Linked DNA regions of Homo sapiens. The protein of the gene in region 1 purifies or fractionates together with the protein of each later gene. This does not show direct contact. Each region holds a gene or a part of one and is shown on either strand. Other genes may lie near its edges.

Region 1 (3,753 bases):
GGATTGCTTGAGGCCAGGAGTTCAAGACCAGCCTGGGCAACATAGCAAGAGTCCGTCTCTACAAAATAAAAAATAATTAGGCACAGTGGCTTGTGCCTGTAGTTCCAGCTACTTAGGAGGCTGAGGTGGAAGGATCGCCTGAGCGTAGGAGGCTGAGGCCACAGTGAGCTATGATTGTGCCACTGCACTCCAGCCTGGGCAACAGAACAAGACCCTGTCTCTTAAAAGAAAAAAAAAAAAAGGAAACAAGGAAACAAGGCACCAATACATACATGATACAATGTGGTTGAACCTCAACAACACAATACTAAGTGAAAGAAGCCAGACACAAAAGGCCACACAGTGTGAGAGTACATTTATTTATTTATTTTGGAGACAGGGTCTCACTCTGTCGCCCAGGCTGGAGTGCAGTGGCGAAATCTCGGCTTACTGCAGCCTTGACCTCCTGGGCTCAAGTGATCCTCCCACCTGAGCCTCCTAAGTAGCTGGGACTATAGGTGCAGGCCACCATGCCTAGCTTTTTTTTTTTTTTTTTAAGGCAGGGTCTGACTATGTTGCCCAGGCTGGCCTTGAACTCCTGGGCTCAAGTGATCCTCCCGCCTCGGCCTTCCAAAGTGCTGGGATTACAGGCCTGAGCCACTGCGCCTGGCCCTTCGTTCCTTTTTATGGCTGAATATTCCTCCACTGCATGGATACGCCACATTTTGTTTATCCATTGTCCACAGCTAGACATTTGGGCTGTTTCCACGTTGGGGCTTTTTTTTGTTTTGAGACGGAGTTTTGCTCTTTCACCCAGGCTGGAATGCAGTGGCACAATCTCGGCTCACTGCAACCTCCACCCACCCGGTTCAAGCAATTCTCCTGTTTCAGCCTCCCAAGCAGCTAGGATTACAGGCACCTGCCACCACGCCCGGCTAATTTTTGTATTTTTATAGAGATGGGGTTTCACCATGTTGGCATGTGCCACCATGCCTATCTGATTTTTGTATTTTTAGTAGAGACGGGGTTTCACTATGTTGGCCAGGCTGGTCTCAAACTCTTGACCTCAAGTGATCCGCTTGCCTCGGCCTCTCAAAGTGCCTGGATTACAGGTGTGAGCCACAGTGCCTGGCAATTTCTGCTGTTTAAGCCACCCAGTCTGTGGTATTAGTTATGACAGCCCAAGCTGGAAATACAGACACTTTTCTCTGTGTAGTAAACACTCACTCACTTGCACACGTCATTCAATAAATATGTACTGGGCACCTAATACGTGTGCGATGCTGGGGAAAGAGGTGGCACAAATGAGCTTTCTGCCTGCATGGGACTCCCAGAGAAGAGCCAACACATGCAATCAGAGTCCTAATAAGGACACGCAGGGCGCCGGGGAAGCCCGGAGAGGGCTTCTGACCCAGCCTGGGTCAAAGGGCTTCCTAAAGGAGACATCTAAGGAAAAGTCTGAATGAGTGGGGGAGAGCGCAGCCTGCACGCGGGATGCAGGAGGTAGGCTGGAAAAGGGGGCGATTTGTATTCCAGGGAGATGGGAAGGTGTGGAGGGCGTTAGAGCCGGGAAGCCCAATCTATGGGTCACACAAGCCCTCTGGGGTTAGTGAGGAGGTGGACTCCCCAGATGGCAGGAGCTGGGAGCCCAGGCGGTACCCAGGGAGTGGCTCAGGCTGGGCGAGGGGCACACTTAGAAGCGAATCAAGACCCATGGGGATTAAGACCCCACGGATGTGAAGGTAAAATAACAGAATACAAAATTCAACAATGCCTCCTCTAAGCAGCCCTCCCGGCTATCCCTTTTGAAGTCCCCCACCACTAATCCCCCTACAAGAGGCCGGGGGAGTCCGCGCCCAACTCTGTCCCTCTCGAGACCAGAAGCTGCCTAGGGGCAGTCCGGGGCCAGGTGGCCTCGAACATGCTGTCGCGTCGGGCTTCAATCGTCTAGTCTGGAAATGGGCATCGCCCCCAACTAGGTGCGGTTCAGACTGGACGCCAGAAGTGCTCCTGCCTCCCAGCACCCCTCCTCCAGCCTTCCCAGGGGATGGTCCCAGGCCAAGCAGCCCCCGCCCCGCGCCTCTGCTCCCCGAACCCGGGTTCCGCCCGCGCCGCAGACGCTCCTACCTTCTTACCCCAGCGCCGGCCCGGTCGCGCCTCCGTGACGTCATCATGGGGCCTGCGCGCTGAGCTCCTGGCGGCGCGCACTCATTGCGCCTCAGTACCGCCGCCATTTTGGTAAAGAAAAAGATGGCTGGGCCTCGGACCCAAGCCAGGGTAGTCAGCCACTTCTTTGTCTCTTCAAAAAGAGGACACTTAATACGCCCTCATTCCCTACGCTCATTTAATATGTTGATGAACCAGGAGGGGCGGGCAGAGGCGAAAATCTAGAACATTGCCTTTACCAAGATGGCCGATGCCCGGATGAAAGATGGCAGCTGCGACTACACACGTGGTCCGGCGGCTTCAGCCTGGAGCGGCCCGGCCGCCAGAGCGCGCCCGCGGTCCATGAGGGGAGGTGGACCCAGTATAGCCCTGAGGAAGCCTCTCCGTAGCTCTTCGCAATCCCTTAACGCTTTAAAAGTGCTTTCCTAGTCCTGAGTCTCTGCGTCCCACTGGTGACGCTGGGGCGGGGCTAGGAGAGGGGAGATAAATGGGGCAGAGAAATTAACACACACCGCGCAGTCCAGGTAGGGAAACCGAGGCTCAGAGAGACCAGGAATTGAGTTTGGCCAAAATGTAACCGCGAGTAGGCTCATAACCGCGAGTAGGCTCAAATTCCGTCTCTTGCTCCTGCCAGTGCCTCTTCCTGGATTGCTGACCTGCTCCCCACTTCTGCAATATTATTTATTAATTTTATTTAGAAATTAGGTTTGAGGCGCCAATTTGTCTTAGGCACTATACTTTAGATTTTCTGCATTTACTACTTCTCGGTGTTCTCAACAGTAAAAATGGCAGTATTAGGGGTCTAAGGTTACACTGGTCCTGACTGTGGAGAGGGAAAAGCAAATGCTTTGGGGGCAGTTCAGGTAGGAGTAGTTGACCACAGAGTCCATTCCCTAAAAGGCATCCCCCCAGCGACCTTGCTGGGACCTAAATCCCAGTGCGCGATGCACCTCCCCTGCTCTAACGCCTCCCCTGGGTTCCCATTGTCCCGCAAGACTCCTCCCACCTCCCACCCCATCTCCCTTGGCTTCCCTCACCCTCCCATTAGCTCTCTGCTCAGGTCGCACCAGCCCCCTTCTTACAAATTGCCAGGCGCAGTCTTGCCTCAGGGAGTTCCCCCAGGAATTTCCCAGGTTTTTCCGTGGCCAGTTCCTTCCCTTCAGGCATGAGACAGAAAGGTCTCTGGGTGCAGGGGGCTTAAAGTCGGAAAATCACATGAAAGATTATTATCCTGGCTGGTCGCAGTGGCACATGCCTGTGATCCCAACCCTTTGGAAGGCTAAGGTGGGAGGATCGCTTGAGGCCAGGTGTTTGAAAGCAGCCTGGGCAACATTATGAGACCCCATCTCGACAGAAGATAAAAACATTAGCTGGGCGTGGTGGCATGCTCATCCTCCCATTCAAGAGAATCACTTGAGCCCAGAAGTTGGAGGGTGCAGTGAGGTATGATAGCGCCACTGCACTCCAGCCAGCCTGGGTGAAGGAACCTCTCTTAAAAAATACTAATAAAGGCCAGGCATGGTGGCTCACGCCTGTAATCCTAGCACTTTGGGAGGCCGAGCCAGGCAGATCACCTGAGGTCAGGAGTTTGAGACCAGTCTGACCAAC
Region 2 (3,653 bases), on another chromosome or scaffold:
GTACACTTTTAATTTTGATAAATACTTCCAAACTGATTTCTGAACCAATTTATACTCCTACCAACTGTCTTGGAGGGGGCTTGTTTTCTCATACCCTCACTAATACCAGCTATTATCAAATTTTGTAGTTTTTGCCAATCTAAAAGGTGAAAATATTTTATCTTGCATGAATAAAGTTGAATATTTTTTCTTTTTTTCCCTTAATCGTTTGCATTTCTTCTACTGGGTTGTCTTTTTAACTGATGCATAAGAGCTTTTTAAATTTTCTCTTTTTTAAGAGTTAGGATCTTGCTGTGTGGCTTAACTCTCAAACTCTTGGGCTCTAGCAGTCCTCCCACCTTAGCCTCCCGAGTAGCTGGGACTACAGGCATGTGCTGCTGTGTGCAGCAGATGTGTACAAAAGAGCTTTAAAGGTAGTACTGAAAACAGTTCCTTTATAGTTCTATGTTGAAAATAATTTCTTCCCACTTTTTTATTGTCTTAATTTACAGATTTTTTGCTGTGCAGTAGGTTTTATGTTGTCAAATGTATTAATCTTTTAACCTAGGTTTTAAGTTAAAATGCTTTCCCCATGCTAAGATTTTTAAAAAGAAAAACTCTTCCATGTTTCCTAATATTTATACTGTTTCAAATTTTTATGTTCAAATCTTTGATCCATCTGAAATTCACTTTGGTGTAAGGAATAAGGAAGCATTCTAAATAGATGTCATACACATCAACAAATATATATATATAGCCCCCACCCAAATGTGGATGTAAACTGTTTCTACATCATTATTGAATAATCCATCCTCTCACCCACTGATCTGAAATCTCACTGTTGCTATATACTATGGTCCTATGTGGATTAGCATCTACGCCTGGATTCTCTATTCGCTCCTCTGACTATTCCTGGCCCAGTAACTTGTCTGACAAGTTCAGTTTTACAGTATGTTTTGTTCTCTAGTAAAGCAGCACACCCTTGCTCTCCCAACTCTTCCTTTTCAGTTTTCTTGGCTATTCTTGAGGGTTTTTTTCCAGATAAACTTCAATAAACGTGTATCAAGGTCCAAAATGAACGCTGGTAGGTTTTTTTTTTTTTCGAGTTGGGGTCTCACTCTGTCGCCTAGGCTGGAGTGCAGTGGCGTGGATCTCTGCTCACTGCAAGCTCCGCCTCCCGGGTTCATGCCATTCTCCTGACTCAGCCTCCGGAGTAGCGGGGACTACAGGCGCACGCCACCAGGCCCGGCTAATTTTTTTTTTTGTATTTTTAGTAGAGACGGGGTTTCACCGCGTTAGCCAGAATGGTTTCTATCTCCTGACCTCATGATCCGCCCACCTCGGCCTCCCAAAGTGCTGGGATTACAGGCGTGAGCCACTGTGCCTGGCCAAACGCTGGTAGGTTTTGAGTGAGACCACATTACATTTAAATATATTTACAATGTTTTCTGCTCTATTCTTTAGTAGACTTTTCCTCACGTGGTCCTACGCATTTCTTTCTAAGTTTATTTTCATATAGCCTATCCCTGTCTACAATTTAAATTGGGATCTTCTATATTCTAGTTATTATTTGTAAATAAGAAAACTACTGACTTTTTTCTAGTATATTTTCTCAGAATAGGATTTTCTATTTTTCTATAAAATGACCAATGTTATGAAGCTTCGTAAGTTTTGTCAAAGTGATACACACATACAGCAAAAAATCAAATAGTACAGAAGTATAAAAGCAACAACCTCTGCCTTGCCCCTTCTCCACCTTCAGGTCCCCTTCCCAGATACAATAATTTTTAGCTTTTTATTTTTAATTATTCTGGTTGTTACCTACATAACTCTGGGCAATATGGAAAAGTTATTGATTTTGTATATTAATTTCATAATCAGTTACCTTGATGAATTCTCTTGTTTCTAGTAGTTTTTCTTTAGGGTTTTAAAGGGATACAATCATACCATTTGCAGTTAGTAACCATTTTATCTCCTCTTATTTCCAACTTCGTACTGTTTTCTCTTGTCTAATTTGTTTTTAATTGGTGGGTACTTCTAGAACAAGGTTAAATAAAAGTGGTGTTGGTGGGCGTCCTTATTTCTGATATTAATGGGAATGAGTATAATGTATAAATATATAACCATGATTTTGGTTTTTTTCCAAGTTTTTATCAGTAATGATTGCTGAGTTTTATCAAAATTTTTTTGGCATCCATTGAGAGGATTATATATTACTCTTTGACACATTAATGTGGTTAATTAAAGTAACCAACTTATTAACCTTGAAATAGTCTTAGTTAAATAAACCCTACTTGTCAATGCTATATCATTATTTTAATATTGTACTGAACATTTTACAAAGGTGTTTCACCATAAGGCATATTGATCTGTAATTTTTTTTTTTCTGTTGAACTTGCTATTGTCAGGTTTTGGTGTATTATGTTGGTTTTGGAGAATAAATTTAAAAGTTTCCTTTATGTTATCTATACATTGCCTGAAAAGAGTTTAAATAGCATTGAAAATGATCTCTTCTTTGAAGATTTAACCAATTTCACCTGTAAATCTGTCTGTGCTTTGTAATTTTGGTGATACTGTTGACTCAAATTCCAAAAGCAGTAAATGCAGTGTTTTATATTTTTCTATTAAAAATGTAAAATCAAATTATATTACTCATTTGTATATAGTCTTTGATTTTTTTCTAAAGAATGAGCCCTTATTTTATCATAAGCTCAGTGAAGAAGTTGCTACAGTTGTACTTTTTTATTTCCCACCTAATACACTACTCTCAGATAATGTACCACATGACACACCTATCTGTGAATATCAGAATCTGAAGTTATATATCATGTGTAGGCCAATCTCTTAAGCTCTGAATTTATTTGTTCAGCTACTCGATATATTCACTTAGCTATTCCATAAGCTATTCCATAAGCACTTCAAATTCAATATATTTAGTTCATTATCTGCTCCCCTCTTGCTATTGCCAAGTTTAAAATAGTAATTTCCTCCCTTTCCCTTGCTTCCCACATCCAATCAATTACCATGCCCCTTTACCTCAGTTTTCTAAATAACTTTAAAATCTACCCATCTCTCTCCATTTTCCCAGCCACTACCTTAGTTCAAGCTGTCATGTCTCACGTGTCTTCTGTAACAGCACTCTCGCAGGTCTCTTTGATCCTAATTTCACTCACTTACCATAATGCAGCCAAGTGATTTCCTTGTAATGTATAGACTAGATCCTGTCCTTCCCAGATTAAAATTCTTTAATGACTTTGTACTACCCTTGGGATAAAGTTCACTTTCCTTATATAGGGGTCCCTTTAAGATTTAATCCCTCTTTACTTTGCTGGCCTCATTGAGACTCCCTCCCTCCAACACTATGTTCTACACACAACAAATCACTTAGGGCTCCTAGACTGCATACGATGTTTCACTCCTGGCCTTTGCACACGCTTTTTCTTCTCTCTGGAATTCTTTTCCCCCATTCTACAGGTCTTGGCTTAGACATTACTTCTTCCTGGAATCTGTCTCCAAACCTGTTTTTGTTGGATGCCTTCTTCTATGTTCCCACATCACACTCTGTAAGGACTAGCCTATAGAATTCCTTCCTTTCAGTAGTCTATAAACTCCTTAGAGGCAGGGACTGCTTATTCACTGCACCCCAGTACCCAACACAACACTTAGCACACAGT

What was found. Proteins that work in one complex are often made in the same cells at the same time.
Region 2: the proteins of CCDC124 (region 1) and PRKRA purify together in Homo sapiens (affinity purification with western blotting; one study listed by BioGRID). This does not show direct contact.

Annotation. Positions count from the first base shown.
Region 1 is NC_000019.10:17,931,402-17,935,154, reverse strand, and holds the start of CCDC124 (coiled-coil domain-containing protein 124), read right to left. Parts: upstream 2,141-3,753; 5' UTR 2,107-2,140; intron 60-2,106; exon of another isoform or gene 1-59. UniProt on the Homo sapiens protein: Ribosome-binding protein involved in ribosome hibernation: associates with translationally inactive ribosomes and stabilizes the nonrotated conformation of the 80S ribosome, thereby promoting ribosome preservation and storage.
Region 2 is NC_000002.12:178,437,614-178,441,266, forward strand, and holds part of PRKRA (interferon-inducible double-stranded RNA-dependent protein kinase activator A), read right to left. Parts: intron 2,631-3,653; exon of another isoform or gene 1,254-2,630; intron 1-1,253. UniProt on the Homo sapiens protein: Activates EIF2AK2/PKR in the absence of double-stranded RNA (dsRNA), leading to phosphorylation of EIF2S1/EFI2-alpha and inhibition of translation and induction of apoptosis.